2 separate regions of the Homo sapiens genome follow, and region 2 is linked to region 1. The links come from fine-mapping of genetic effects on gene expression. A gene starts in region 1. The other region holds a variant in brackets. All regions are shown on one strand. Distances are between the middles of the regions. Region 1 holds the start of EVL (Enah/Vasp-like). Region 2 holds the start of LOC102724682 (a long non-coding RNA gene).

Evidence for each region. PIP is the estimated chance that this variant, and not a neighbour inherited with it, causes the effect.
Region 2: its variant is fine-mapped to the expression of EVL in lung (TOPMed, PIP above 0.99). The same link has a PIP of 0.9 or more in aorta, pancreas, prostate, stomach and thyroid.

The regions. Positions count from the first base shown.
Region 1 is chr14:100,057,155-100,073,759 of GRCh38, reverse strand. EVL (Enah/Vasp-like) reads right to left here and starts at 8,338. Exons shown (of 14, transcript NM_016337.3): 1 at 8,249-8,338. The coding sequence starts at 8,259. It overlaps LOC124903379 (a long non-coding RNA gene), which reads left to right and starts at 9,716. Exons shown (of 2, transcript XR_007064329.1): 1 at 9,716-10,630. RefSeq lists enhancers at 4,914-5,208, 4,188-5,387, 5,963-6,032, 7,465-7,534, 7,595-7,674 and 8 more.
Region 2 is chr14:99,943,190-99,959,794 of GRCh38, reverse strand. LOC102724682 (a long non-coding RNA gene) reads left to right here and starts at 10,494. Exons shown (of 6, transcript XR_007064328.1): 1 at 10,494-10,595; 2 at 11,687-11,860; 3 at 14,321-14,472; 4 at 15,248-15,812. It also overlaps the pseudogene RNU1-47P. RefSeq lists enhancers at 8,754-9,255, 12,754-13,682. The variant G/T (reference allele first, on the strand shown) is at 8,142.

The DNA of each region.
Region 1 (16,605 bases):
ATGTTTGCTGAGTTTTGCCAGGTATTGTATTTCTCAGCCTCCACGGATTTTTGTGGTGGGGGTGGCATGACTTACTTGAGATCTGGCCACCTCTGCTTTCTCTTTCTTTCTTCCTGCATTTATTTGAAAAATAAAACAAGGGCCGGGCACAGTGGCTCACACCTGTAATCCCAGCACTTTGGGAGGCCAAGGTGGGAGGACAGCTTGAGCCCAGGAGTTCGAGACCAGCCTGGGCAACACAGATCCTGTCTCTACACAAAATAAAAAAGTGTTAGCCACGCATGGTGGTGGGTGCCTGTAGCCCCAGCTGCTCAGAAGCCTGAGGTGGAAGGATCCCTTGAGCTGAGGAGGTTAAGGTTGCAGTGAACCGTGTTTGCACCACTGCACTCCATCCTGGGTGACAGAGCAAGACCCTGTCTCCCCAAAAAAAAAAAAAAAAGAAAAAGGAAAAAGTGCTGTACGTGCAAAGTGTCACAAGAGGAGGGCATTTAGTTCTGCCCAGGGGACCCAAGGGATGTTGTCATGAAGGGGAAGCAAGACTTTTCAAGAGGAAACAAAGAACCATTTCAAGCAGAGGGAAGAGTGTCAGCAAAGGCAGAGTGGTGGGTGGGGGGACCTCAGTCATCACCCTGGGGCCTCATCACTTCTCAACACCTACCCAGGTGAATGAGGAAGCACACCCACGTTGCCATGTCCCAATTCAGTGACCGAGAAACAGAGACGCTTGAAATCACAGCCGCATCAGAACTGAAAAACATTCTGCAGTGATTTTCTTAGGAAACACGCCTGGAGAGGGAAGTAACCTGCCCAACGCCCATGGCTGATCCGCGGCAGAGCCTGGACTAGACAGCAACCTGACGCTCCGCCGTGCAGTAAGGCTCTTCTGCTCCACCTGGCGACGCAGCAAAACCCAGCTCCAACTTTTACTTCCTGCTTTGAAGCTGTTTTTCACTCCAACTTTTTAATCTGAAAAATTTCAAACCTACAGGAACATGTAAGGGACACTCTTTTACCTTTCACTAAACCTGCCCATGGTTAACATTTGCCACATGTGAGTTATCTCTGTCTTTCCCCTGAGCCATTTGAAAGTCAGCTGCAGATACCATGATACTTCAGTCCTAGGGACCTGAGCATACATTTCTTTAATATAAGGATATTCTAATATATAACTTAAATACCATTGTTACAACAAAGAAAATCAACACTTTACTAAAAATCTAATACAGAGTCCATACTAAAACTTACCCATGTAATCCCAGCACTTTGGGAGGCCAAAGCAGGTGGATCACCTGAGATCAGGAGTTCGAGATCAGCCTGGCCAACATAGTGAAACCCCATCTCTACTAAAAATACAAAAATTAGCCAGGTGTAGTGGCGCATGCCTGTAGTCCCAGCTACTCGGGAGGCTGAGGCAGGAGAACTGCTTGAACCCAGGAGGCACAGGGAGGTGTAGGATGCACTGAGCGGAGATAGCTCCAATGCACTCCAGCCTGAGCGACAGAGGGAGACTCCGATGCAACAACAACAAAAAAGTTACCCAATTTTTACAAAATGTTTCTGATTTTTTGGGATGTAGGATCTGCTCATGGATTACATTTGATCGAGCCGTCTGCTTACTCCCTTTCAAGCTAAGCTAGGATGTGAAACTATTTAAAAATTTTTCATTGATAAAGATGTTGTGTGTGTGAAGAATTCAGGCCAACTGAATGTAGACTGTAGGTTGGTTAAGAGGTGACTGCCAGATCTCCAATGGAAAGCTATATTTTCCCCTTAGTAATTATTAAATCATTTATAGGGTGCCATTTTTTTTTCTTAATGGGCACAGGTGTGAAACAGGTTTCATGCTATGAAGTAGACTTAAAATGTTTATTGTGAAGTACTTCAGGCCTGTGAGAAGTAGGTTCCCACGATCCCACCACACAGTCTAGGAAATCTGACAGCAAGTCATAAAGCTGTTTAGTTCAAGTGACGCCTGCATCCTCCTCCCAGACCCAGAGCCCCTCCTCTCTACCAGGGGGAACCGCCACCTTGCAGGTGGTATTTTCAATTCCATGCTTGCTGTCTGTAGTGCAGCCATACAACTGACTATTTTACACACATAGTTCTCAAACTTTTTTGGTCAAGAGAACCCCTTTACACTCAATTATTGAGGATGCCAAAAAGCTTCTGTTTTATGTAGGTTAAGTCTATCCATATTCACCTTATTTGAAATTAAAACTAATAATTTTTTAAAACACAAGAATATACAAGCAGACATTTCATTAGCTGCCACAGTGATGATGTCAAAACATCACATAGCTCTGGAAAATTCCACCATGAATTCATGAGACAAGAGCTGAAATGGCAAATGATGTCTTAGTAATATTATAAATACAGTTCTGATCTACAGACTCCTAGGAGGGTCAATCTCTGGAGTACATTTTGAGAACTGCTGCATTACAGCAATGAAAGACAATGAATTAGCTCTCTGCATATTAACATGGGAAACCCAAATGGTGACTGAGCCCCATTTTTGAGAGTGTTAGAATTAAAGAAAGGCTTTGGGTAAATAAAGTCTACATTCAGTGTTAAACCCTGACACCTTCTTTTCTATCCAAATTGGTTGCCCACATCATGGGCAATCAAGACGTTTGCCTTTTCTCCTTGGATGTCACCCTCTCAGATGCCTGGACAGCTGGTCTCCATTACTCTGTGAAGTCTGGTGCAATCTGGAAAAACACTCCAACCAACTGTTGGGGGAGTCTGACATTCCTAGACTGACCCTGTCTCATATGCATCTCCCATACTCTTTCAAGGCCACCGGCGTAGCCCTTTCTTTGGGGAGCCATCTGACAGCCACGTGGACGTTAAGGCTACTCAAACCTCAAAAACATTTATATATTTTGCTCTGTGTCTTCATCTCAAAATTTGTGTCCCCAGAGTCTGTGACTCTGATCACTTGTGAAGTGGAACAGGTTTTAGCACAGCCTTGGGACAACTGTAGAGGCCTGGCTTGGGCCAAGGATTGGGACAGTATGTTCAGCTCCAAGGATGAATCAACAGCCTGGGAATGAAGACCCCGGCTCTGCCCTTACAAACACCCCTGAAGACACAAGTAGCCACTTGGACTCTGTGCTATTTACTAGGCACAGGGACAAACATGAATGCATAACACAAGCGTCCTGCTCTGAAAGAGCTCTAGGCTGGTAGGAGAGATCCTGAGCCGACAGAGCATCGACAAGAGATACGCACGCAGGCACGGGGTGCTACAGGACAGACGAGGTCTCTTTTGTCTCTTGTGGTATTAACAGCACAGAATGACGGAGACTGCAAAATAGAGATCAGGAGGGCCTCGATTCTACCCTTGACTCTGCAAATTGGGACAAGTTTAGCTTTGAGAAGTTAAAGCTGAGAGGGCAGATTTTGATCCTCTCAGAGATCAAAAGCTCCGTCAAGTGACAACAATGTGACCTGGAATACGATACTTTGTAGGCCCTTGTTTTCTTTTCTTTTTGAGGTAGGGTCTTGCTCTGTCACCAGGGTGGAGTGCAGTAGTGTGATCACAGCTCACTGCAGGCTTGAACTGCTGGGCTCAAGCAATCCTCCCACCTCAGCCTCCTGAGAAGTTGGGACTATAGGCTTCAGGCATGCACTATCACATCTGGCTAATTTTCATTTTTTAATTTTATTTTCTTTCTTTCTTTTTTTTTTTTTTTTTAAGAGAGGAGGTCTTACTATGATGCCTAGGCTGGTCTTGAACTCCTCAGCTCAGGTGATCTACCTGCGTTGGCCTCTCAAAGTGTTGGGATTACAGGAGTGAGCCACCATACCCGGCCAACCCTTGTTTTCTTATCTGTAAAGTGGCAATAGTGATACCAGACCTCAAAGGATGAGAATTAAATAGTATGTATATCATGTAACTAGCGTAATGGTTGGTGTATAACACTGAGAAAAGCTGAGCTGTTGTTATTTTCCTCCTCTGTGGGTTCAGTTACCAAAGCAAAGCCATTGGACTACACTAGTTCTCATCCATTTTCTGCCCCAGCCCACCTGAGTATCGTAACATTCTCATGAGAATAACCTAGAATCTCCAGAGGAATGTTTCTCAACTAGAGGCACATGGGATTCTTTGAGACAGAGGAAGGCAGAGAAGCTTCAGAAGCTCTCCAAATGATTTGGCTACAGGTCTCTAGGGAAGTGCGGGTTCCCATGGAGAGTGAACGGACTACGTGATCTCTGAGGGCTTGTTCAATTGCCTCTGGGACTCTCTGACTTGCCCGTGAGGACTGGAAATACCTGTGAGAAAGGAAACACCAGGTGTTCCTGGAGACTCCTCCAAACCCTCACACAAAGGCGTACAATTAGGTGCGAAGGATTGTAAGCTGAACCCCGGCTGTGCGAGACTTCTTATATCTTTACAGCTTCAAGATGTGCAGCACAGTGGAATAAACAGTAATGACTGTGCCCAAGCAGCCACAGCTCCTTCACTACCTGACAGCAAGTGAAATGTCTGTTTTTCTGGTCTCTTCTCTAACATGCCACACCAGGAAGCTCCACTGAGTAGCAACTTTGGTAGCACAGGAATCTTTAGGACCATATATCAAAGTAGTTAATTAAATCCAGCAGTTCAATAAATGTGTATTGCCAGGCAATGTTTTAGGCACTGGGGATACACCACTGAACAAAATAGGCGAAAATCCCTGCCTTCTGGGAGTTTACATTCTTGAGGGGTAAAGACAGTATACAGTAGAACAAGTAAGTTCTATAATACGTTAGAAGATAGTACGTGCTTCGGAAAAACCCACAGCCTACCAAAGACAACAGAGAGACCAGGGAAGGAAACGAAATTAACTGGCTGGCCCCAAAAGTGGCAGACATATCACACATCCATATCACGTTTCCTGCTGCTGCACCGCGACCTCAGCTACTTCCTGCTCAGGTCAGCCTTGTTCAACCCACATTTCCTGGGAACCTGTGCTGCTAGGCCCACACCTCTACAGATTCTTCCAGCTAGCACCCCAGCTGCCCCAGCGTGGTGAAAGGAATCACCACCCACCTAAGCCATGTCTGACTCATGTTTCCCCCACGCCCATGTGTGATCCACCAGATAGTCCTGGAGGCTACAGCACCACGGCACTTCCTGAATCTGGTGACTTCTCACCGCCTACCCTGACTGCTCCACTGCTGGCCCAAACCACCCTCACCTCTTACCTGGATGACTGCGGTAGCCTCCCAAGAGGTCATCCTGCCTCCATTCTTGCCACACTGCCAGCCATTATCCACACAGGGCCCAGAGTGATTTTCTTAAGCTTCTATGAGATGTCTTTCCCTTTGCTTCAAACCCTCCCTCCAAAGGCTTCCCCTAACTAAATTCTGACATACGCGCTAAATTCAGCACAGCTCGCAGGCTTTGCCGTTGGGCCTGATAAAGCCTTCTGTGCCCTTATTTGCCTTCACTCTTCCTTCTTCATGTTGCTCCAGCCTCTGTATTTTTCTTGACCCTTGAACCCACCAAACCATTCCTATCTCAGGGCCTCGTCCCCAGCTGAGGATACTTGCTGCCCTTTCCACCCCAAAACCTTCAGATTTTAGCATGGCTGCCTCATGTCCCCACATGTCCCCTAAGGCGTGGCCCAGTCACTCTCTACCACACTGCTCTATTGTTTTCACGTCTCTTGTTGATGGTTTCTTGACTATATTCTGCCTCCCGACTCTGCCCTCAGTTTGAGGACAAGACTGCCTGTCTTGTTTACCACTGTGTCCCTAGCACCCAGAGCAGCCGCTGGGTGACTGGTTGCCTGTGATGCCTGCCAGTGCCTTCTAAAAAATCATCCCTATTCTTCAAAGTTCACCTGAGATCCCACTTTCTCTTTGAGGTCTTCCCTGACAGTCCCCAACTTCTCAACTCTTACTGCCCCTCCTGTCTATGCTTATTACTCTCTGTGCTGCAGGGTCCTCACAGCCAGTCGCCTCCTCATTTCTGTGAGTGCTGTCTTCCTCACTCCCTACCAGTCCCTGAGGACAGAGGCAGCTCTAATTCAGGCGTAAGAGCAAAAGGGCAAAGCATCTGTGGTCAGGAGGCACAGGTTCAAGTCCTGGGTCTATCACTCACTGGCTATGTCTCTTGTCAAGTTACTCTCTCCTGTGAAACAGAAACAATAAAAACAATGCTAGCTGGGTGTGGTGGCCCACACCTGTAGTCCCGCTGAGGCAGGAGGCTTGCTCGAGCCCGGGAGTTTGAGGCCAGCCTGGGCAATAAAGCAAGACCTCATCTCTAAAAAATACAAAAACAAAAACGCCCCACAACACTACCTTCAGGATTATTGCGATAACTAAATAACGTCAGTGAAAGCATTCTGTACGTTGTCATGCACTCAAGAGAATTCCCAGCTCCTAATCCAGTCAGGGCTTGGAAACTGTTTCTTGATTGGTGGGTAGCCAGAGCTAGAGCTGGTAAGATATATTTTCACATTTAAAAGGTCCTTTGTATCCCCACCACAGGCGCCACGGTATCCCCATGTGTCAGTCAGCATGAGGAAAAACGAAAAGTTCACAGCTCCTATGGCTGCTGACCTTGCAGCTCCACGAACGCTGCTTCCACCAGGACTGTCACTATGGTGCCAGGCCAGGGACCTGTGGCAGAGTGCAAGCAGCCTTGTACGGGGGAGGGACGCACCAGAAAACCTGGGCTTTTGCTTTGGTTCAGCCACTACTCCGCTCCCCGTACACAAATTCTGCTCCACACTGGGCCTCAATTTCCTGATCTGCGCACTCAAGAGCTGGGCTAGATTAGTGTAATCTTCAGACTTGAAAGTCATCACCACCACCAACAATGACTGTTTTTTCTCAATGAATTATCAAGGAATACATAGAAAACATAAAAGCAGAGTTATTTTGGCTGAAGTGGAGAATAAGGTGCCCAAAACATCTTATCTACTGTAGATCACCTCCAAGGTCTTTTCAAGATGGAAATTTCTAGGATTTCTACGATTTTAAAATTGAAAAAGAAATTGCTGTGCCTCATTTACTTTTGATATAATTTTCTGCAATTAGTAATTGACACGGTAGAATAAGCTGCTAGAAGTTTTCACAATGTAATTTACAACTGAAAATGACTTTGGAAGTTGATATGCCTTTGAAATGAAAAGCATTCTGTTTTCTAAAGCTCCACTCACGAGTCCTCTAAAGTTAAAGGAAAGTTACTAAAATGACAGGATCAGAAATAAAGCCAACTGGAAAATAAGCAGCCCTGGACAAGTTCTACCTATCACCACGTCAATTTTAACAACTCACTGCAAGCTGCTTCTGTGCCTGTGTAGCGTGCTGCGAAAACCACCGGATGAGGCCAACCTCGTTAAACCCTGGTTCCATTCCTTCCCCAACCTGCCATGTGACCTTGGACAAACCCCACAACTTTTCAGAGGTTTTCTCAGCTACGAAACAGGAGTGATGACAGCGTTCTCATCAATCTAACACGGCTAAAAGATTCAAATAAGAAAACTGGCGAAATGGCACTTTGGAAATTGTGAAATAATTTTCAAAGTGAGGGATTGTTACTTTATGCTAAAAAACAAAGCTGTCATGAGTCAATCAAACAAATGCCCCAAACCCCACAGGATAAAAGTCTGTCTGTCCTATCATCTATAATCTTTCAGAGTTGTAGGGCAGGGGAGAGGCAGGTCCAAAATGTAATCTCACCTTTAGAGAGAACAATCTCAATGAGGAGTGCGGTTTGTAGACTGGCTGGTATTCACACATGTGCTCAACAGCAATAGCCTAAGTCCACAAGTCTCTCAAGTGGAGGGTCAGGACTCTTGCTATTAAGTTCATGAAGTTCCTATCATAAAAAGAACCCTCTCTGCCTATATTTAGAAAAAACAACCAGTCTCGGGTCATTCTAGAGAGAAGGGCCAGGACTCACCAAATGTACCTCTGAGCTAAACAACAATTCCCCTAGATGGCTCAGACCCTCCTCCCTATAATGAGAGGCAGGTGCTAATTTCTAAGTAAGTCCTTGACTCAGAAGCCATTAAAGGTCACAGGCATCAAGAGACACAGGCCTGTGTAATGGAAAGACCAGCGGCTAGAGAGGGAGCAGACTGTCACTAACCTGCTGTGTAACCTCATGTAAGCCCCCTGCCCTCTGGTCATGGACTTCTCGATCAGTATACTAAGGGGACCTGAGATAATTTCTACAGCCCATTCACCGTTAAGATTCTAGGTTTCCTCTTGACATCCCTCTGTCCCCTGCACTGGTTCCAATACTCACCTTGTGGCCATGGCTGAAAAGTGGCAGCACAGGGAACCCTGAGGAGGCGAGTCCTGTACTCCCACCAGCCTATGTTGATCAGAGGACCACAGACCCTCTGAAGACAGCAACTTGATTTTTATAGCCTACTTAAAACCAAACAGGAAAAGGAAGCTGAACCAGAGACAAAGGGGAAACAAACCCAAGTGAAAAACTGAAACCTAGGTAGAAAATAGAGAAACAAGAAGCTAACACTGCAGAGCCCCACCAGCGTGGGCGGCTGAGAGGCACTGCACAGGCCCAACCCCCCACAGCTGGCAACCTCAAGCCTCTAAGTGCTTCCTGCAAGGGTGCAAGGGTGGGTGAAGCCTGCTGGAGGTAGGGGCCAGGTCATGGTGCTGGCCCCCCACTAACTAGCTCTATAGTCTAAGTCAATGCCACTTAAGATGTCTGAGCTTCAGTTTTCCATCTGTTATAGAAAGTGCAGGCTCAGCACAGATGACTTCCTATAGGCCTTAAGAAAAGGCTACAAGAACTCGGAAGAGTCCCCACTGACTCTCCAGAGAATAGAAGACTAGATGATAAAGGCTATAAGCTGATCAAGTCTTTTTTTCTTTTTTGAGACAGAGTTTCACACTCCTGTCACCCAGGCTGGAGTGCAATGGCACGATCTTGGCTCACCGCCACCACAGCTTCCTGGGTTCAAGCGATTCTCCTGCCTCAGCCTCCTGAGTAGCTGGGATTATAGGCATGTGCCACCATGCCCAGCTAATTTTGTATTTTTAGTAGAGACGGGGTTTCTCCATGTTGGTCAGGCTGGTCACGAACTCCCGACCTCAGGTGATCCGCCTGCCTTGGCCTCCCAAAGTGCTGAGATTACAGGCGTGAGCCACCGCGCCAGGCCACTGATCAAGTCTTCATATTTGACTCTGGAACAAAATTTGTACTTCTACCGAGGAGACAACTCTCTCTAATGATGACATTTAAGTCAGCAATTTAGAGCCTGAAAGGAAAACACTTGAGGAATACTGGAAACTTGGCTTTGTCACTTGTTTATTAAGTGGGTGGCCTCAACTGTAAAATGGGGTTATACTTATTTTGCCTATCTCCACAGGGTTCTCATGAAGGTAAGATCCAGTCCAATCTTTCTTTCAAAATCTACTGAGAACTCACTAAGAAGCATGCACTGTGTTAGAAATCACAGACAAAAAATTGAGAACGACTGTACTTGTCCTTAAAGGACTTTTATGGTTTAGAAAAGAAGAGGTTGATAATGTTAGCAAATATTTAATAGATCCATTAAAATATTATTGATATAGTGAAAAACAGCTGTACAGAGTACAGTACAAAAGAAGTATCAGTTCTAATTGGAGAGATGAATGCACTTTGAATGCTAAAAATGCATTTTAAAAGGCTTTTAATGATATACATTTCCCTTTAAGCACTGTTTTAGTTGCAAACCACAGTTTGGATGTATTGCAGTTTTCTTTTTTCTTTTGGTTCAAAATATTTTTAATTTTCTCTAGTGATTTCTTCTTTTATCCATGGATTATTGATAAGTGCTTCGTTAAATTTTGAAATATTTGGTGTTTTCCTATATCTGTTGCTACCTATTTCCAATTTAATTCTACTGGGGCCAGAGAACATATTTGGTGTGACTTCTTCCTTTGTTTTTCCTGGTATGATCTCAATCCTTTCACATTTATCAAAATGTGCGTTATGGCCCAGCATGCAGTCTACCTTGGCGGATGTAGCATATGCACAAGGAAAGAATGTGTATTCTGAAACTGGTCGGGTGCAGTGTTCTAGAATGTCAATTAGGTCATGGTGGTTAATAGTATTGTTCAGAACGTCTACGTCCTTGTTACTTTTTGTTGCTGTTGTTTGTTTTTGTCTAATTATTCTATCAACTGCTGAGGGAAAGGTCCTGAAATCTTCAACTGTGACTGTGGATTTCCCTCTTTAATTCTGTCACTATTTCTTGAAGCTCTTGTTAGGTACATTTTTCCATGCAGCATTGGTTTTCTGCGGCTGCTGTAACAAATTACCACAAACTGAGTGGCTTATAACAACACACACTTATTATCTTAGAGTTTTGTAAGATGATAGGAGGTCAGAAGCCCAACATCATCAGAAGTTCCACATAGGTCTCTCTTGCTCACCTCTCTCAGCTTCTGGACACTGACTGCATTGCTTTCTCATAGCCCCTCTGTCCACTTTCAAAGCACGCAGCAGTGCTCCGACCCTTCTTCCACAGTGACATCTCTTTCTGACCGCGGTGTGGACAGGTTCTCTACTTTTAAGGACTCGTGTGATTAGACTGGACCCAATGGATAATCCAAGATAACCGCTCCATCTCAAGGTCCACAACTTTAATCACGTCTGCAGAGTCCTTTTTGCCATGTAAGGTAACATTTTATTTATTTACTTTTTTAGAGGCAGGGTCTCTTGCTGTCACCCAGGCTGAAATGCAGTGGTGTGATCATAGTTCACTGCAGCCTCAAACTCCTGGCTCAAGTGATCCTCCTTACCTCAGCTTCCTGAGTAGTTAGGACTATAGGCACACACCATCATGCCTGGCTAATTTGAAAACAGTTTTTTAAATAGAGATGGGGTCTTGCTATGTTTCCGAGGCTGATCTCAAACTCCTGGCCTCAAGTGATCCTCCTGCCTTGGCCCCCAAAGTGCTAGGATTACAGGCATGAGTCACCATGCCCATCCCATGTAAAGTCACACAGTCACAGGTTCTAGGGATTACGGCGGGGTGATGGCATTACTCTGCCTACTACCCATCCTTTCACTTTCAGTCGATTTGTATCTTTGTATTTAAAGTATGTCCTATAGGTAGTGTATGACTGAGTCTTGCATTTTCACCCAGTCTGACAATTTCTATCTTTTAATTGGGGTATTTAGTCTATTTACATTTAGTTTATTGATGTAGATGGATACAGGTCTACTACTTTGCTATTTGTTTTCTGTTTGTCTCATCTGTTTCTGGTTCCTCTGTTCTTCGTTTCCTGTATTCTTGTGGGTAAACTAAATACTTTTCAGAATTCCATTTGAATTTCTCTATTGACTTTTTAGCTATACCTCTTTTTTTTTTAGAGGTCTTTCTAGGGATTACAATATACATTCTTAACTTTGTAGGGTACACTTAGAGTTAATATTGTACCACTTCAGTAAAATGTTAAGAACTTCATAATTGCATAATTTCATTCTCCATTCCCATCCTTTATGGTGTAGCTGTCATATGTTACTCAAAATACAATGTTACATATTTTTGTTTTGGACAGTCATATATATATATATACATATATATATATATACACACAGCTGACTCTTGAACAGCACAGGTTTGACCTTCACAGGTCCATTATACTACTATTTCTTTTTTTGAGATGTGGTCTCACTCTGTTGCGTAGGCCGGCGTACAGTGGTATGATTACAGCTCACTGCAGCCTCAACTTCCTGGGCTCAAGCAATCCTCCCATCTCAGCCTCCCAAAGTGCTAGGACTACAGGCATGAGCTACCACCATGCCTGACCCAGGTCCACTTGCACATGGAATTTCTTTTACCTCTGCCACCCCGAGACAGCAAGACCAACCCCTCCTTTTCCTCTTGCTCCTCAGCCTATTCAATGTGAAGATGACAAGGATGAAGAACTTTAAGATAATCCATTTCCAATTAATGACTAGTGAAACTAATGAAAACATATTTTCACCTATGATTTTAATAAAATTTTTTCTCTAGCTTAATTATAAGAATACAGTGTATAATACACATAATATACAAAGTATGTATTAACCAACTGCTTATGTTATTGGTAGGGCTTCCTGTCAACAACAGGCTCTTAATAGCTAAAATTTTGGGGGATGCAAAAGTTTAGGTGGATTTTCAACTGTTCGAGGGGCCAGTACCCTAACCCCGGGATTGTTCAAGTCATGTGCGTGTGTGCGTGTATTGAAGAAATAAAAGTCTTTAGGTTTACTCATATATTTCTCTTTTCTGGTAATCTTTATCCATCCCCGAGCACTTGAATTTCCTGGTATCTTTTTTTTTTTTTTTTTTTTTGCAGCCTGAGGAACTTCCTTTAGCATTTCTTTTTTTTTTTTTTTTTTTTTTTTTTTTGAGACAGGGTCTTGCTCTGTCACCCAAGCTGGGTGATCTCAGCTCACTGCAACCTCTGCCTCCCAGGCTCAAATGATCCTCCTGCCTCAGCCTTCTGAGTAGCTGGGACTAAGGACATGTGCCACCATGTCTGGTGTATTTTTGTATTTTTTGTATTTTGTAATTTTTGTATTTTTTGTAGAGAAGGGTTTCAACATGTTGCCCTGGCTGGTCTCAAACTCCTGGTCTCAAGGGATCCGTCCACCTCAGCCTCCGAAAGGGCTGGGATTACAGGCGTGAGCCACCATGCCTGGCCTCCTTTAGGATTTTCTGTACAACAGGTAAGTTGGCAATACATTCTCTTAGTTTTCTTTTATCTGAAAAACATCTTTGTCTTCAAGCTTCAAAGCACTTTTTGTGAATAGAGAATACTGAGGTTTTTTTTTTTTTTTTGTCTTTCAGCACTTTAAAGGTATTGTTTCATTGTCTTCTGGCCTCCATGGTTTCTGAGAAGTCAGCCATCATTCACATATAATGTATGCAATGGATCCCTTTTCCTTTGGTCATTTTTAATATTTTCTTTTTCTTTCGTTTTCAGCAGTGTGACTTTGATGGGTTTAGGTGTGGTTCTTTTTGCATTCATTTTGCTAGGGTTTCACTGAGATTCTTAGGTATGTAATTTAAGGCTTTTCACCAAATTTGGGAAATTCTGGTCATTATTTCCTCAATTATTTTTCTTCTGCCTCATTCTCTTTCTCCTCTTCCTCTGGCACTCCAATTACACGTATGTAGACCTCCTGATATTATCACAAGGCACTGGTAATTCTTTTTAAAATATTTTCCCATTTTTCAGATTAGATATCTATTGATCTGTCTCCAAGTCCACTACCCTTTCTTCTGGATCTCTGATCCACTTTTAGTCTCATCCAGTAAATTTTTCATTTCATTTCCAGTAGTAGAATTTTCACTGGGCAAGTTTTTTTTTTTTTTTTTTGAGACGGAGTCTCGCTCTGTCGCCCAGGCTGGAGTGCAGTGGCGCGATCTCGGCTCACTGCAAGCTCCGCCTCCCGGGTTCACGCCATTCTCCTGCCTCAGCCTCCCGCGTAGCTGGGACTACAGGCGCCCGCCACCACGCCCGGCTAATTTTTTGTATTTTTTAGTAGAGACGGGGTTTCACTGTGTTAGCCAGGATGGTCTCGATCTCCTGACCTCGTGATCCGCCCGCCTCGGCCTCCCAAAGTGCTGGGATTACAGGCGTGAGCCACCGCGCCCGGCACTGGGCAAGTTTTTTATAATTTCCATTTCTCCTTTGGGATTTCCTGTTTGTTCACTTTATCCACCTTTTACTTAAAGTCTGTGAACATATTTATTATGGGTAATTTGAAGAACTTGCCTGCTCGTTTCAACTTCAGGAGCATTTCAGGGTCTACTGACTGCTTTTTTCCCCTTAAGTATATGTCATATTTTCTGACTCTATATGTCTACTAACTTATGATTGTATGTTAGATACTGTATGATACATTGCAGAAAGTCTGGATTATGCTATCTTTCTTTAAAGATGTGAAGTCTGTTCTGGTAGTCAGGGAAATTACTGGCAGATCCTTTTGGTGCTACCAAGCTTGGTTCAAACCTTTCTTCAGTTCTATTTCCATTTTGAACTTAGCCCTAGGGTATCCCCCTCCTCTGCAACCACCCCCCCATCTGACTCAAGAGCACAGTCCTACTCCTAAAGTGTGACAGTTCTGGGATCTCAACTGAATGCCTGAGGTGTTCTGGGCGGTTTCTTCATTCAGGTTAAGCCGGATCTGCAACATCTCCCAGAACTGAATGACCTCTGGCATCATCATTCAGCTCTCAGCCCTACAGCAGGCGATCTCTGCCAGGCCTCATGAAGAATCTCACTCTGTACATGCACACCCAGCCCTCAGCCAACAATCCAAATAGAATCCTTACACAGAACTCTGCTGTCTTTGCCCTGTCACAGGGCTTCCATTTCTCTAGTTCCTTGCCCTGCAAAGTCCAACTATTTCAGTGGCGTAGAATTCTAATTTCTGCCCACTGAGCTGACTAAAATCACCTTTCCATTTGGGCTCCACCACTCCATGCCAAGACTAGATAGTGACTGCAGGCAGAAAGCCAGGGGCTTCTCATGGTGTTTCTTCTCTCAAGAATCAAAGTCCTATCTTATCTGTCCAATGTCTGAAAATGGCAGGGATTTAATATCTTCTATGAGTCTCAGTACCCTTTGTATATTCAGTTGCTTCACATATTTTACACAGTTTCATAGTTGCTTTTGTCAAGAGAGCAAGTCATTACCATTATTCTGCCATGGCCAGAGGCAGAAGTCAAATATGATTATTAAACTACCAAAGGGTATTCTTTTTCATTTTCTGAAGATGCTAGCCTAAGAGTAAACATCTTTTCTGTGAGAAGTGCCTTTCAGTTTCACCCCTCATTTCCTCTGTCCTTCACACGTTACTACTGTCTTTTATCAGTTTCACTAGGTAGGTAACAGGTAAGAGTGAACCTTTTGGCACTCCAATTACACGTACGTAGATAAAATAGAGTACTATTTTAACTCTATCATCTAGCTTTAATGAAGCACTTGAGAAGAATTATGAAAAGAAGCAAAAAATGTGGCAAGCTTTCTGAGTAGGGTGCTATGAGATAGGGATTCCAACCCTTGCTTTGTTATTGACATGCTGTATGTTCCTGGGCATTCAGGTCTCTACTTTGACCCTGGTGTCTCCAGGTCCGATGAAAAAAAAAATGATCTTATAAATAACCATGTACTGCAGGAGTGGTACCAATTCCTAAATCGTTCATGTCAGGGCAATAGAAAATGTTGGAAAGATAGAATAGGAACTGTTGGCACTTGTGACGCAATTTAGTGAGCAAGTTAAGAAACGTATCCTGTTTGAGGTAGCATCTTATAATGTGAAACCATGAATTGCGCTCAGCACCTGGTATACTGCTTAGGTAGTAGGTACAGTGTAAGTGGTGATCATATGAATAACTATGCATAGATGAATACATGAATGAATGAATGAATGAGGAAGACGGGCATCAACACTCACACAGGATACTGATATTAAATCCTAAGGCATTTGGCTTTGGATTTTGAAAACAGTAAATGCTCAATAAACAACAACTGTGTTGACTTGAATTAAAAGATGTGCTTTCCATGTGTCCAGACTCCAAGAGAAGGCAGAGTGGGCTGAAAATAAATCACAGAGCTATACTAGAAGACACTCTACTTAGGAGATCTAGTTCAAAAACTTGCTGTGGTGACTTGGGAAAGTCAACTTTCTTCTGTGGATTTTAGTTTTCTTTTCTGTAAACAGACTAACCTCACTTCTCTTTCTTTCTCATTGGGATGTTTGTGAATGAAAGGGTCTTTCACTAACAAGAAATGAATTATGTTTGTATAATAATGACATTTCATGAGAATTTGTGTTAAGAAGGCAGGGTGTTTTGAGTACAAAGCCCTTGTGTCCTGGGAGTAGAGAAAAGGAGGACAGAGAAATGGCTACCCAAAATTAGTTACAGTCTCTAACACATTATGAAATCCTATTAACAATGCTGCATTAGGCTTTTTAAATATAATATTTTATATGTGCTATCATTATTTGACTCCTAGAACCTCAACTATGGCTCCAAAAACCAAAATGGAAATTGGATCTGCCAGAGATTCTGGTATTCTCAACCACTTTGCCTGAGAGACATTTCTTTAAAAAGTTTACACTAAAATAGCTCAGCCAGCCACAAGACGCTAAAAGTTGCCTTTTCCTTTCCAGTTCACTCACAGTTCAGTTCCAGCTCTTGCTGATAGGGCCTGCCTAAGCCTGCCTGCTCTGTGAAGTCCAACTGTTTCTTATACCAGAGGGAAGACATGAAGAACAACAAACTCAGATTAAAAAAAAAACAAACTCCAAATCATTTTTCTGATGATCTGAGACTTGTCCTCAGAAAATGTTTTATTTCCAGAGTTACAGCATCTGGAAAGAAAGTGTGAATGGCCAAATAAAGAAACCCCGATGTCAGCTGAGCAGTCTCTTAGGGGGACTGTAATATGGCTCTTCACCGATATCTGTGACCTTAGACTTCCGTGGACTTGGTGTTCATGAGGACACTATGCTACATATAATCTTTCTCCATATACATCTTTCATCATATAAAGGGAGAAGTAAAGGGGAAAGGTAAAAATCCCACCACTGGACTCCTGGGAGTGGGAAATCTAGTTTCTAGCACATGCCCTGGTGGTTCAGGC
Region 2 (16,605 bases), 110 kb after region 1:
ACGTGAATGATATCTTAGCCAGGAGATTTTAGGCTAGCAGTCCCCTTTTCTCAGGTCTAGAAACTTCTAGTTTCAAATGCAGATAAGAAATCTGGTAGTCGGCTGGGCACAGTGGCTCATGCCTATCATCCCAACACTTTTGGAGGCTGAGGCAGGGGAATCACTTGAGCCCAGGAGTTTGAGAGCAGCCTGGGCAACATGGCTAGATGCTGTCTCTACAAAAAAATACAAAAATCAGCTGGGCATGATGGCAGGTGCCTGTAGTCCCAGCTACTTGGGAGGCTAAGGTAGGAGGATTGCTTGAGTCCAGGAGGTCGAAGCTGCAGTGAGCCAAGATTGAGCCACTGCACTCCAGCTTGGGCAACAGAGCGAAACCCTGTCTTAAAAAAAAAAGAAAAGAAAGAAAGAAGAAAGAAGGAAAGAAAGAAAGAGAAAGAAAGAGAGAAAGAAAGAAAAAAAGAAAGAAAGGAAGAAAGAAAGGAAGGAAGGAAGGAAGGAAGGAAGGAAGGAAGGAAGGAAGGGCAGGCGTGGTGGCTCACGCCTGTAATCCCAGCACTTTGGGAGGCCGAGGAGGGCGGATCACAATGTCAGGAGATCGAGACCATCCTGACTAACACGGTGAAACCCCGTCTCTACTAAAAATACAAAAAATTAGCCAGGCATGGTGGTGGGTGGCTGTAGTCCCAGCTACTCGGGAGGCTGAGGCAGGAGAATGGCGTGAACCCGGGAGGTGGAGTTTGCAGTGAGCCGAGATTGCGCCACTGCACTCCAGCCTGGGCGACAGAGCGAGACTCTGTCAAGAAAGAAAGGAAGAAAGAGAAAGAAAGAAACCTGGTAACCAGTTGGAGTCCCTTTTTCACATATCATATCAGTTTCCTATTGCTAACATAAGTTACCAACAGCAGAGTGGCTTCAAACAACACACATTTTTATTATCTTACGGTTCCAGAGCTCAAAAGTCTCTCTGGGCTAAAGCCAAGGTGCCAGTAGGGCTGCATTCTTCTGGAGGCTCTGGGTGAGTTTATTTGCCTCTTCCACCTTCTCTCAGAGGCTGCCCATATTCTTGGGCTCGTGGCCCCTTAGAATGGGGCCCTCTTCAAAGCCAGCCGCGGGGGTTAAGTCTCTCTCACATGGCATCGCTGACCTTTTGTCGGCAGTCGTGTCTCCCTCTGACCTCCTGTGCCTCTGTCTTCCACTGTTAGGGACCCTTGTGATGACATTGGCCCCAGTGGCTGCCAGTGTAATGATCCATGATAATCACCCTATTTTAAGGTCATCCGATTAGCAACCTTCATTCTACCTGAAACCTTAATTCCCCTTTGCCATGTAACCTACATATTCACAGGCATTAGGTTTGGGCATATTGGGGTGGATGTAAGGGGAACATTCTGTACATAAGTAATCTGATATCAGCTTCTGGCAGAACAAACAGATTACTTATATACAGAATGTTATCCTTAGAGTTCAGAAATTTCACTGGAGTGCAAAAAAAAAAAAACCCCAGATAACCATAAAAACATAATAAAACATTAGAAGTATAAAATACTCTTCTATTATAGGTAAGTTTTAGCTTAAAGAAGAAATCGGCCAGGCGTGGTGGCTTACGCCTATAATCCCAGCACTTTGGGAGGCTGAGGCAGGATGATCACTTGAGCCCAGGAGTTTGAGACCAGCCTGGGCAACATGGCAAAACCCTGTCTCTACAAGAAATACAAAAATTAACTGGGCGTGGTGGTGCGCACCTGTAGTCTCAGCTACTCGGGAGGCTGAGGTGGGAGGATTCCCTGAGCCTTGGGAGGTCAAGGCTGCAGTGAGCTGTGATCACGCCACTGCACTCCAGCCTGGATGACAGAATGAGACCTGGTCTCAATTTAAATAAAAAAAAAAAAAAGAAAGAAATCAATGTTAAAACTACAAATTAAAAAGAAATTAATGAAAAGGAGAAAACTTCAGAGCAACACTTATGGGATACAGTGATACCTTAAATGCTTTTATTATTATACAACAAAGAATGTATATAAATGGACCAGGCGTGCTGGCTCACGCCTGTAATCTCAGTGCTTAGGGAGGCTGAGGCAGGTGGATCATTTGACGTCAGGAATTCAAGACCAGCCTGGCCAAGATGGCGAAACCCCATCTCTACTAAAAATACAAAAATTAGCTGGGCGTGGTGGCACATGCTTGTAATCCCAGCTACTGAGGAGGCTGAGGCAGGCGAATCGCTAGAGCCCAGGAGGCGGAGGTTGTAGTGAGCTGAGATTGCGCCATTGCACTCCAGCCTAGGTGATGGGAGTGAAACCCTGTCTCAAAAAAAAAAAAAAACAAAAAAAAAACCAAGGCTGGACGTGGTGGCTCACATCTGGAATCTTAGCACTTTGGGAGGCAGAGGAGGGCGGATCACCTGAGGTCAGGAGTTCGAGACCAGCCTGGCCAACATGGTGAAACCCTATCTCTACTAAAAATACAAAAATTAGCCAGGCGTGGTGGCAGGCGCCTGTAATACCAACTACTTGGGAGGCTGAGGCAGGAGAATCGCTTGAACTCAGGAGGTGGAGGTTGCAGTGAGCTGAGATAGTGCCACTGTACTCCAGCCTGGGTGACAGAGCAAGACTCCGTCTCAAAATAAAATAAAAATAAAAAAGCAAAACAAGCAATACATATATAAGTGAATTAAATATTCAACTTAAAACACAACAAAATAGGCCGGGCGCAGTGGCTCATGCCTGTAATCCCAGCACTTTGGGAGGCTGAGGTGGGCGGATCATTTGAGGTCAAGAGTTCAAAACCAGCCTGGCTAACATGGTGACACCCCGTCTCTACTAAAAATACAAAAATTAGCCGGGTGTGGTGGTGGGTGCCTGTAATCCCAGCTATTCGGGAGGCTGAGGCAGGAGAACTGCTGGAGCATGGGAGGCGGAGGTTGCAGTGAGCCGAGATCCTGCCTCTGCACTCCAGCCTGGGAGACAGAATGACACTGTATCTCAAAAAACAAACAAACACACAAAACAGAACAAAAAAACCCAGCAAAATAAATAAAAAGAAATTATGAGGAGGAAATGAATAAAGATAAAAGCTGAAAATAGTGAATTAGATAACTGAAATACTGAAAAATAAAATTAAAATATGCTTCTTCAAAAAAAAATTGAAAACTCACAATGTGCAAGAAATAAAAGAGAAAAAAAAGCACAGAACAGAAGGAATGAGAAATGAGACAGACTCACAGGGGCAAATGAGAGGAAGTTAATTTCCAGGGGATGTTATTGCAGTTGCATTTCAATAAATGTCCACCTGTTCTACATGCAATGGGTGATTTTCTTAAAAATCAAGTAAGTAGAAATGTTGGTAATAGGGGAACTTAAATTGGAAGAATTTTAAAACCAAACTATACCTGGGGGCACCTGGGTGGTTAACCACTGGGGGAAACCAGCCACCTCGGGCCGTCCTTGAAAAGATGTGCATTGTAACTGTGAATAACTGAGCAGGCTCCTGTCAAGACAATAGTTGAGAACCATCCCAAGACTGAGCCAGGAGCCCGGCAGGTAGACCCCGCTCTGCCACCCTTCACTGTGGGGATTTGGGCAGGTCCTTCCTCTCCCTGAGCCTCTGTTTCCTCCAGAGGCCGCTCCAAGATGGCAGACTCTGGAGCCCCGTGGGGCAGGTGGAGGTGGCCAGGGCAGGGGGTGTTAGGGAGGAGGAAGGAACAAGATAGGGTGAGAGTGCTTCTGAGTCACCACCACCTCTGACTGCTTCTGCCAGAGCAGCCCCATTCTTAACCTTATTACAGAGTGGATTTTCTTGTATGATTTCATCTGAAAAAAGGTTTTGCTGCTGGTATTAGTCAGGGTTCTTCAGAGAAACAGAGCCAATAGGATGTATAGTGTATAGACAAATAGAAAGAGATTTATTATGGGGGATTGGCTTATGCGATTATGGAGGCTGAGATGTCCCATGATCAGCCATCTGCAAACTGGTGGCCCAGGAAAGCGGGTGGTGTGGTTCCAGTTCACATTTGAAGGCCTAAGAACAAGGGGAGCTGGTGGTGGGAATCCCAGTCCAGGTCCAAAGGCCTGAGAACCAGGAGCTTCAACGTTCTGGGGCAGGAGAAGATTGATGTCCTAGTAGATGTCAAACAGAGAGAGAAAGTTCGCCCTTCCTCTACCTTTTTGTTCTGTTCAGGTTCTCAACAAGTTGGATGATGACCCCCCAGCCCCCCCACCCTACCCCCGCATTGGTGAGATCAAGCTTCCTTAGTCTACTGATTCTCTTCTGGAGACACTCGCAAACACCACCAGAAAGAAGGTTTGACCAGCTCTCTGGGCATCCCTTAGCCTAGTCAAGTTGACACATGAAATTAACCATCACACTGTTGAAACAAAGTGTGAAAACCAGGTGATCCCCCAACTTCCGAGCTACTTCCACGTCCAAACTTCGTAACATTCACCTGGCAAAGTTCACTGGTTTTGCTTTGATAACTTTCTGGTTTCTTTGAGTGATAAAGATGTTCATAATTTAGCCCCGAAATGGAGATGAATATGTGTGTGACGTGTGTGTGTGTGTGTGTGTGTGTGTGTGTGTGTGTGTGTGTGTTCCTTCTTTCGCAAAACCACTGCCTAATTTGGAATATAATTTCAACTTGCTTTTCCAAAATGACCTAGAGCTTGGCAAGAGCATAGGGCTGATGAGCCTGTGAGGTGGGTAGATAGCTTCCTCACACATGCCCGACTTTCTCCTTGGAGAATGATGAGGTTTACAGCCTTTAGGTAAAAATAGCTTTGTGTGGCTTCCGCCAGGAAGACACTTAAAAAGGGAGAGAGGATTAGGTTGCTAAAAAAGAAAAAAATCTACCAAATTGCTACCATAATTTTGGAATTCATTTTTGCAAAACATATCAGAAGACATAAAGATGATCTTGCCTGCTAACTCAGTAATTCCACTTCTGGGCATTTGCCTCAAAGAAATAAATTTAACTAAAAGAAAAGCTCAGTGGACAGCTGCTCACTGCAGTCTCCTCTGCCATAGCAAAACACCCAAAGCAAGAAAAGATGCTCAGGGTGAAGTGTGAAGGGCAAAGGGTACTGCAAGTTCAGAGGCTCACAGTCCACTCCTTCATGTATTCACCAAACACTTCTGATAACATGTGGGCACCAGGCACTGTGCTAGGTGATGGGAAAGAAGAGTGCCCGAGATGCAGAGTGCTTCCACCTTAGGGTGCTGATTGGCAGAAAGGCTGGAGGCACATAAACCTACACCCACAATTCAGCATGAGAAGGGAAGTACAACAGAGGTGGGGACACAGAGGAGGGACAAGAACCAGCCTTGGCACTCAGGGAAGCCTTCTCGGAATAAGTGACTTTTTATTTTTTTTTGAGACGGAGTCTTGCTCTGTCGCCCACACTGGAGTGCAGTGGTGCAATCTTGGCGCACTGCCACCTCCGCCTCCTGGGTTCAAGGGATTCTCCTGCCTCGGCCTCCTGAGTAGCTGGGACTACAGGTGCCTGCCACCATGCCCGGCTAATTTTTGTATTTTTAGTAGAGACGGGGTGTCACCATGTTGGTCAGGTTGGTCTCGAACTCCTGACCTCAGATGATCCACTGGCCCTGCCCTCCTAGAGTGCTGGGATTACAGGTGTGAGCCACTGTGCCCTGCTGGAAGTGACTTTTGAGCTGAGTTCTGAAAGTTATGGTGGTTGGCCAGAATGATGAGAGGAAGAGGGTTGGGGGCACAGAGCATGAGCAAAGACCAGGTGGCAACGAGAGGCTGCCGTGGTGGTTGGACAGAGAAAAGCTCTGTGGCAGGAGCTGAGAGATGGTGCTGGAGAGGAACCAGAGCTCACTGACCGGTCCTGTGTGTAACATGAAGGAGCTTTTTCCTAAGAATTTTTAAGCAGGAGAGTGATATGGTCAGATTTATGGTTTGGAAAGGTCACTCAGACTGCCTGGAGGAAGGTCAACATGGCTGCAGCCAGGCCAGCAGTGATGGTGGCCCTCCAGGGCATAGGCAGCATCCGTGGAGAGATGACGTGGACACGTGCCCTGGCTCCTCATGGAGCAGAGCCCTCGATTCTGGAAGAGGCAGAATGGTGCTGTGGTTGAGTGTGATCTTGGAAACCTGACTACATGGGTTAAAATCCCAATTGTTTCACTGTGTGACCCTCTCACAGGGCTGTTGAGAGTGTTGAAGGAGCCGTCATGCATAAGGCACCTCCAACAGTACCTGGCAAGGGGTGGGTAAGAGCTCGCTGAGTGATGCTATCGAGGTTGTCACTTATTGGCTGCTTGCTGATACAGGCAAGAGGAACACCCACATGCCTGGCATGGGCCACTGGGAGGATGGCATGCGGGTTTTTGGGGGAGAAGTGGATGAATTGGGTTTGAGCATGTAGAGATGGAGGCTCCAGTGAATGAGCAGATGGAGACATCCTGCAGGATGTTGAACACAGAGGTTTGAAGCTAGGAGACAGGCTGAGTCAAAGATAGTGATTGGGACCTTGTAAGGGTTGAAGAGGCGGCTGGCCCCAGGGAGCTGATGAGATAACCTGGGGAGAAGGTGGAGGGAGAAGAGAAGAGGGCCCCGAGAGAGCTCTGTGGCAAAGGGATGGACCAGGAAGGTTTTTTTCTAACAGGAAATATTTGAGCCTGTCTAAATGTTGATGGAAGGAGCATATAAAGCACAAGTACACTGTGGAGAAATGGCATTCAGTAAGGGTGGCCTTTAGTATTTTTTATTATCATCATTATCACCATCATTACCACCACCATCACCATCACCACCATCACCACCATCACCACCATGATCACCAGTGTGAAAGGAAAATATCTTGGGCCCCTTCAAGCTGGGAACCGCTCAGGACAAATCTGCCTCTCATTCTATTCAAAGTCATCCCTCTGCTCACAGAGATACATGCATATTCTGATTGCCTCCTTTGGAAAGACTTATCAGAAACTCAAAAGAATGCAACCATCTGTCTCTCACCTACCTGTGACCTGGAAGGGAAGGGGTGGGGGGGTTGCTTTTAGTTGTCTCTGCCTTTTTGCATGGAACTAATGTAATTCTTACATATATTCATTGACGTCTCATGTCTCCCTAAAATGTATAAAACCAAGCTGTGCCCTGACCACCTTGGCACATGTTGTCAGGACTTCCTGAGGCTGTGTCACGGGTGTGTCCTGAACCTTGGCAAAATAAACTTTCTAAATTAACTGAAACCTGTTTCAAACTTTGGGAGTTCACAACAGTATCACCACCATCATCATTACCATCATCACCACCATCAGCATCACCACCATCATCACCACAATCATCAGCATCACCACCATCACCATCACCATCACCTCAGCATCACCACCACTATCACCACCACTAACACCGCCATCACCATCACCATCACCTCAGCATCACAATCATCATCATCATCACCATCACTATCACCACCATCACCATCATGTCAGCATCACAATCATCCTCATCATCATCACCATCACTATCACCATCATCACCTCAGCATCACAATCATCATCATCACCACCATCATCAGCATCACCACCATCACCATCACCTCAGCATCACAATCATCGTCACCACCACAATCACCATCATCATCATCACCATGATCATCAACATCACCATCACCTTCATCATCACCATCACCACTAGCAGCAGCATCACCACCATCACCACCACCATGAAACATCACAACCATCATCATCACTATCACGCCGTAACCATCTCCACCATTATCACCACCATGATCACCAGCATCACCACATCATTGGCATCAACATTATCACCATTACCATCACTGCCATCATCAGCACCACCACCACCACCATCATCATCACCATCACAATCTTCAATATGAGAAGACTGTCAAGGAGCAGTGATATAGATTATGGCATCATGTTATGCAGCTGATAGGAGTTATTTATAACAAAGTTATAATGACATGGGAAAATGCCTATAAAGCTACATGAAAAAAGCAATAGAAAGCATTGTATATGCAATATGTTAACTATGGAAACACATCCAAAACTACTCGAAAAAGAAATACAGGAAGGAAATGTGCTCAGAAGTAATAGTGCTATTTCAGGGTGGTAGTGATATGGCTGGGCTTCTTTCTGAATTTGCTATAATGAGTCTGGAT[G/T]AGTTTTATGATTTAAAGCACATTAACCTTCATTTTCTAAAAAGAAGCAAAGGTGGGCAGCTGGGGGCTGCCCGAGCTAAGGTCACAGCAACCTTGGGTAAATCCCTGTTCTCCAAAGGGCTTTGATTCTGCCTTTAAAAAGAGGGAGTGGGCAAAAGAGCCTTTCCCCCGAGGTGTGCTGAGTCTCTGGCCTAGCAGTGATGTCCCAGGAAGGAGAAGCTGTGCAGTTAGACAGCCTCGGGGACCTGGCACTCTCACACCATGCCCTGGTATCTTCAGCCAGGGGTGTCCCCAGCTGGCTGCAAGTCTCAGGCCCTTATTCTGTCACCACACTCTCTGCTCAAAAGCCACCTCCTCTGCGTGCCTGGGCTTAAGTAGCCCTTGTGACTACCGGCCCCTCCCCGCCCATCTCCAGCGGGAACAGTCTCCTCAGCCTCTTCATTGCTTTCTCCATTCACAGTTCCATGAGAGCAAGAACTCTGGTATCCCCGGCCCCTAGGATGTGCTGCCTCAGGGTAGGGGTGGTGTTTGTTGGGTGAATAGATGAACACAATAGCCCTTCTCGACTCACAGGGCATATTAATGCGTCTAGCTCAGTGCCTCCCCAACACAGGGGCTATTAACATGCTTTGGAATTGGGTTTCACAGAACATACTTTGGGAGATGCTCCCCCAAGACGACCCCTGAGCGTCACTGCAGCCCCACCATTCTATAAGTGGTTAACAGAAACATCTCTGCTATGGGGTGGGCAGGTATCACGAGCATGGCAGACGAGCGTGGTGGCTGTGCGGCTGCCCTCTGGACCCCAGATCCCTATGTCTGGCTGAGTCCTCTCCCTCCCCTACTTCTGGCTGACGTCTGAGCCCTGGAGCTGCCTCAGCCTGGGAAAGAAGTGCAGGAGGGAACTTGCCAGAACAAGGTAGAGGCCTTTCCTGTAGCATCAGTTTCTGAGAATGCTTTCAAATGGAGGAGCAGTGATTGAAGGTGAGGAGGGGCTACCTCAGCTGCCACTGTGGCCAGGACTACAGGGCTGCTGCCTGCTTCTCCCAAGGATTGTTTTAAATGCAGACAAACGGATGCTGTGTTTCTAAACCTGCCTCCTCTGTGTGAATCAGAGTAAAATAAGCCACATGAAAACAGGGGAACCCCGTGCAGAGGAACCCCATGGGCGTCAAGGGGCAGCTGGGCAGTGTGGTGGTGATCACAGTCCATTCTATTTTCAGTCGCCACAGTCTGAGGGCCTGGGAGAACCTAAGTGATTCTGAAGCCCATTTGGCCAAAAGAATCTCAGAAATGTCACTGAGCATGTGACATCAGTCTTACCATGACAGGAAGTCTGGCCATTTCCTAGTTCGGTCCTGGTAAGGAGGGAGGAATCGTCCCAATGTTATAAGCTGAAATGTTATAACCACATTCTTTTTTTGCGGGGGTTGGGGGGTGCGGGGCAGGGATGGAGTCTCACTCTGTCACCCAGCCTGGAGTGCAGTGATGCAGTCTGGGCTCCCTGCAACGTCCGCCTCCCGGGTTCAAGCGATTCACCTGCCTCAACCTCCCAAGTATCTGGGATTACAGGCACCCGCCACCACGCTCGGCTAATTTTTGTATTTTTAGTAGAGATGGGGTTTCACCATGTTGGCCAGGCTGCTCTCGAACTCCTGACCTCAGGTGATCCGCCTGCCTCCGCCTCCCAAAGTGCTGGGATTCCAGGCATGAGCCACCATGCCGGGCCACCTCTGTATGATTAACCTTCTCCCACAGCATTTCCCAAGATGGATGTGTGGAACATTGATCCCTGGGCCAATCACTAATGCCTTAGGAGCAAAGGTGTCTGATGCTCGAGATGGGGAAATGCCCAAATGTATAACCTTCCTATGCCTTTCAGAGGCAACTGGCGCTCACATCTCTCTCTGTCATGTGCAGTGTGCAGCACAGTCTCAAATTATTTGAAACTCTAGCAGCACCCACTCTAATAATGCTCTGAAGACACCAGGCTGAGAACGCCAGCACAGAATGTAGCTGTGAGAACTGGGAGTTCCACCCTTAGCTCTGTTACCAACTTACTGAGTGACCTGGGGCAAGTACCTCAGTCTCTCTAACCCTCTGATACACTGGCTATGTGCTCCTGCTAAGTCTCATGTTGAATGGGAATCCCCAGTGTTGGAGGTGGGGCCTGACGGGAGGTGGCTGGATCACGGGGGTGGGGCCTGACGGGAGGTGGTTGGATCACGGGGGTGGGGCCTGACGGGAGGTGGCTGGATCACGGGGGTGGGGCCTGACGGGAGGTGGCTGGATCACGGGGGTGGGGCCTGACGGGAGGTGGCTGGATCACGGGGGTGGGGCCTGACGGGAGGTGGCTGGATCACGGGGGTGGGGCCTGACGGGAGGTGGCTGGATCACGGGGGTGGACTTCTCATGTTTTAGTACCATCCCCTTGGTGCTTCCTCGTGATAGCAAGTGAGTTCTTGCAAGATCTGGTTGTTTAAAAGCATGTGGCACCTGCTCCTCTCCGCTGTCTCTTGCTCCTGCTTTTGCCATGCGAACTGTCTGCTCCCACTTCACATTCTGCCTTGAATAAAAGCTCTTTGCTTTGAGGCCTCCCCAGAATCCAAGCAGATGCTGGCACCGTGTTTCCTGTACAGCCTGCAGAACCATAAGCCCGTTAAACGTCTTTTCTTTTTTTTTTCTTGAGACAGAGTCTTGCTCTGTCGCCCAGGCTGGAGTGCAGTGGCATGATCTCAGCTCACTGCAACCTCCACTTCCCAGGTTCAAGCGATTCTCCTGCCTCAGCCTCCCGAGTAGCTGGGACTACAGGTGCGCTCCACCGTGCCTGGCTAAGTTTTGTATTTTTAGTAGAGATGGGGTTTCACCATATTGGCCAGACTGGTCTCGAACTCCTGACCTCGTGATCTACCTGCCTTGGCCTACCAAAGTGCTGGGATTACAGGCGTGAGCCACCGTGCCTGGCCATGCCCAGCTAATTTTTGTAATTTTAGTAGTGGCAGGGTTTCACCATTTCAGCCAGGCTGGTCTCGAACTCCTGACCTCAAATGATCCATCCACCTCGGCCTCCCACAGTGCTGGGATTACTGGTGTGAGCCACCATGCCCAGCCATCTTGTCTTTATAAATTACCCAGTCTCGAGTATTTCCTTTTCTTTCTTTCTCTTCTTTTCTTTCTTTCTTTCTTTTTTTTTTTTTTTTTTTAACGGAGTCTCACTCTGTTGCTCAGGCAGAAGTGCAGTGGGGTGATCTCGGCTCATTGCGACCTCTGCCTCCTAGGTTCAAGCCATTCTCCCACCTCTGCCTCCCAAGTAGCTGGGATTACAGGCATGGGTCACCATGCACAGCTAATTTTTTTGTATTTTTTATAGAGACAGGGTTTCACCATGGCCAGGCTGGTCTGGAACTCCTAACATCAAGTGATCTGCTTGCCTCGGCCTCCCAAAGTGCTGGCATTACAGGCATGAGCCACCGCACCCGGCCTTCAGGTATTTCTTTATAGCAGTTTAAGAACAGCCTAATATACCCTCTTTCTTCTCTTCAAAGAGGGGCGATGGATCCTGCTTCTCGGGTCTGTATGAGATGAGATGAAATGACAATTCCTAATATGGATGAGGAAGTGGAGCAACAGAGACTCCCAGGCTGCCAGTGGAGCTGCTGTGGAGAATGGTTTGGCAATATTTAATGCATGCCCCAGAAAATCAGTAGTCCCATTTCCAGGTAGGATCCCAGATAATTTCTTGCAAACATGTACAAAAAACTTGTGCAATAATGTTTGTGGTTATGTAACTGGATGTTGAAATGAGCGTTCAGCCGAGGAGCCAAGATCCAATAGATGTGTCTTCCAGAGGCACTGTTAGACCATGAGCAGCAGTTACAAAAGAGGTTCCCGAGACACCTCCTGGGCATCCTCATCCACGATAAGAGTACTAAAGCGTTGGGAATTAGACATTTTCAGAAGTAATATTTGCAAGGAGGATTTCTTTGGGAGAAAGTTGAGCTGCTGATTCCAACCCTGCTTCTCCTGAGGGAGGACCAGGGAGGGTACTTCTGCCTAAGCCACTTGGAGGGCTTGAGGTGTGCCATCTGCGATTTGTGGACCAGTGCCTCAAAAGCGCCAGCTGCCCAGAGAAGGCTGCATGTGGAAGGCAGTAACTGCCCACCCACTGGTGCAAGGTGTGGGTGTGGGAGGCACAAGTGTCCCCTGAGACCAGATGTGAACCTCCAAGCAAGGATCCAAGCAAGGTCGTCTAAGATCCTGTCTAGCGGGCTTCCCCGGAGGGCGGTGGGATCTCCGCAGGAAGGAGGCCGATGGAGGCAGCCCTCCCGGTGCTTCAGGGCTGCAGAAGGAGGCCGCACCTAAACAGAACACCTTCATTCAGGTCCAGGGGACTGCAGCTGAGAGGCGATCAGCAACGTTGGGGTTCTCCAAGAACCTCTGAAAGCTCTCTCAGAAGGTCAGTTGAAACATACGCCCCACCCAGAAAGTCAACTAGAGTTTCCCTTTCTCTCTCCACACCCCAACCCTCCCCAGGTCAGAATCAGCCCTGGCAAGCTGGAGAGAGGGGCGGTGCTCTGCTCTTCTGCCACCAGGTGGCGCACCTGCAGTTGGCCGCGGGGCTGGAGGGGGCTTGGGAAGGGGAGGTTTTCAATTTATAACCCAAGTTCAAGGTCTTTTCATAATTACTTATTCAGTCTGCTAGAGCAGCTACTCGTGTTTTCAGCCTAAATAGCCAAATTTGTTCTTAACTGGCCCGCATTATAAGCCCAGGCGTCACCTGTGTTCCAGAGCCCCTGAATCTCACGTCCCCTCCGGCTTCCCGCACGCCGGGGTCCCCTGAGATCCGGGGCAGTCAGCGAGAAAGTGTGTGCTACCCGCAGCCCCGCCCCAGCTCCCTAGCGCAGGGTGGTGTGCGCGTGTGCCCCATTTTTATTGAAACTTAGAGTTGACCTGCGGACCCCCTGGAACGCCCCAGGAGGGCACGGACTTCCTGCAGGGGAGGCTCCCCTTAAACAAGCCTCCTTCCTTCAAGAGGGAACTTGGTACTCCGAAAGGCTTCTGTGGTCCGGTCTGGCTTGCCAGCAAGGTAGGGAAGATCCAGGCTGTCTGGCCCAGAAGGGGGTCTCCTGAGGTGGCCTAAAGCACAGCCAGGGATCCGGCAGGAGATGGAAGGAGCCCAGGTTTCAGACAGCACTGAGCATCCCGTCTGCAGGAGATGGGGAGGGGCAGGGATGCCACTAGGCATCGAGCAGCGGGGTCAGGGGGGAAGAATTGGGCTCTGGAGAAGGGTTCAGAACTGGGGGCTGCACGCTCGACACCCGACCCTGAACTGCTCAGCAGGGAGGCCAGGCAGCTGTTCTAGGCTCCTGTGCAGCCAGGCTCTGAGACACAGCATCAGGCTTGACAGCCCGAGAAACTGAAATCATCAAGTTTGTCAGCTGTGATGATGTCATGGTGTCCTCACACAAAGTGTCTTCACCACAGCGGCAGACTGAAGTATTTATAGGTGAAACGACATGGTGGCTTAGACTTGCTTTTTTTTTTTTTTTTTTTTTTTTTTAGAGACAAAGTCTTGCTCTGTCACCCAGGCTGAAGTGCAGTGGCGCAATCACAGCTCACTGCAGCCTCCTGGGGTCAAGCGACCTTCCCTCTTCAGCCCCTGAAGTAGCTGGGACTACAGGTGCACTCTACCACATTCAGCTGAGTTTTTAGTTTTTTGCAAAGATGAGGTCTTGGTATATTGCCCAGGCTGGTCTCAAAGTCCTGTAGGCTTGTTTTAAAAAATACTCCATCTTGGCCAGGCACGGTGACTCACACCTGTAATCCCAGCACGTTGGGAGGCTGAGGTGGGCAGATCACGAGGTCAGGAGTTGAGACCAGCCTGGCCAACATGGTGAAATCCTGTCTCTACTAAAGATACCAAAAAGTTAGCTGGGCGTGGTGGTGCGTGCCTGTAATCCCAGCTACTCGGGAGGCAGAGGCAGGAGAATTGCTTGAACCTGGGAGACGGAGGTTGCAGTGAGATGAGATCATGCCATTGCACTCCAGCCTGGGCAACAGGGCGAGACTCTGTCTCAAAAATACAAAAACAAAAACAAAAACTCCATCTCCCCCAAAAGTTAGGGGAGACAGAGGAAACAAGATTTTCTAAATGTTTGATTTTTTTTTTCTTTAACCAGGGGAAAGCATGAACACAGCCCCCATGACCACAGATGACGCAGCCGAGTTTCCCACTTTTGGGGAAATTGCAGGGGTCAGCACGTCTGGAGTGCAGTGGATAAGCCTCACCCCAGGAAGACCACTTTCGTGATCACGGCATCTCCCCTGCCAGGTGAGTACGCTGATCATTTTTAGTCTGGGTGAGAGGCTCTCTCTACTTTTGTGTATGTTTGAAATTTTCTGTAAAGTTTTTTTTTTTTTTTTTTCAGACTGAGTTTCGCTCTTGTTGTCCAGGCTGGAGTGCAGTGTTGTGGTGTCGGCTCACTGCAACATCCGCTTCCTGGGTTCAAGCGATTCTCCTGCCTCAGCCTCCCAAGTAGTTGGGATTACAGGCATGTGCCACCACACCCGGCTAATTTGTATTTTTAGTAGAGACTGGGTTTCACCATGTTGGCCAGGCTGGTCTCAAAACTCCTGACCTCAGGTGATCTGCTGCCTCGGCCTCCCAAAGTGCTAGGATTACAGGCGTGAGCCACCACGCCTGGCCAAAGTTTTTTTTAAAAAAGAGAATCTGCAGGAAGAACAGGTCTGGAGTCAGTTTTCACCTTGCATCAAGCGCATGTTCCCTAGCTCCTTTTCACCAAAACCTGTCCCCCTAGTTGTGGATTGGACCATCCCCATCTACCCTTTCCTATGCGCTCCTGTGCCTGTAAGATAGGATGACAGCAGCCTGTTCCCAAACCACAGAAGAGATGGCTAATGAATGGAATAGCCAACCTTTGGGCGTGGGAGTAATCATTCAAAAAAATGTGGGGGGCTGGGGAGATGCCAGAATGGGCTTTCCAGTGAAGCAAAGACAGCCCCTGCCAGGGAGTCCCTCTCACCCCGGCGGCCAGGACCTAAGATCTACCAATGCCAAGAATCCACTGAACTTTGCCTCTCCCCAGTTCCAACCGGCCTGGAAGCTTCCTCCACCTCCACACCCCCCGCCCCCACTGGGCTGACAGCCCAGTGCGACCCGTGGCCTCATGTTCTCTCTTCCCTACGTGGCTGAGGCTGTCCCCACCTTGCCTGGATCTCCTGCCTGGCACTGCCTGCGCATGGAGATGCTGGAATGCCGGTTGCTAAGCCAGTGCAGAGTCCACACTGGCTCCTGGCAAGCACTGCATCGAGCTGCCCTGCTGCTGCAGACGCAAGATCCTCCACGTGTGGGACTGTCTCCTGCTCCACCATGGCCCTCCTGGCTCTCGCTCCTCTCCGGCAGCCCACTTACCTGCCCTTGGATTCTGGAGTCCCCCAAGCTGGCTTGGGAGCCTCTTTTGGCCTGGGTTGAGCAACCTACAATCTCAAGCACACCTTGGCTCCCAAAACCAGCCTCCGGGGAGAGCCTCCCGTGTCCACCTCCCACAGGATGTCTGTGCTGGGCCTGCAAAGCCGAATGCCTACTTTGCCCTTGCAGTTGGATGTCAACTCGCTTCACCTGTTCCAGGCCTTACTACCCTCCTTCAGACGGTCAGTGATCTGCATTTTAGCTCTTGGCACTGTCATCCCACCAGAGAAGCAGTCAGGGACCTTGGACTCAGCCCCGCCCACATCCACTCCACCTGCGAGCTCTGCCGACGCCACCCCACAAACCTCTCTGGGACAGTGCTCCCACCTCCCCACTCCACGCCACCATCACTGCCCACTGAGATGACAGTAAAGCCCCCACCCATCAGCCCCCGGCCTGGAAGCCCTTTCAGAATTGCAGTGGGAACCCTTCCCTGCCTAACCCACCAGCGGCCCCCCTTTGCTGTTGGGATTTGGAATAAAGCCCTTAACATGCCCCCCGTGCCCTGCCTCTCACAAACTGCCCTGGACTCCTGTGCCCCTACCCTGTGCTCTTGAATTTCCCTCTCAAAAGGGTTTTGTGAGTGTTGGCCTCAGCCTCCAGTGCCTCTCTCCCCGCTCTCCCGGGTCATTTCCTTCTCTTTCTGCCAGGGAAACTTTCCGGAGTCCCCATACTCACTCGGGTCTTCCAGTTAGATGCTCTCAATTCCTTCCTGGCTCATATGGTGGTCATCTAGCACGCGGCTGGGCATGCGTTCTGCTAACCTCTGGCTCTTCTGATGCCATGTAGGCGCCCCAGGGCAGGCACTGGTGTGGTTTTGCCCGTCCTTATATTCCCAGCGCCCAGCACATGTCATTAAGACAAGTTTGGAACAAGTGCCTGTCTTGGGGAAGTTATTTCCTTCTCCAAGCCTCAGTGTATCTATCAAATAGCCCTGCTTTCCCTGCAGGCTGTCACAAGCCTACAAAATCCCCC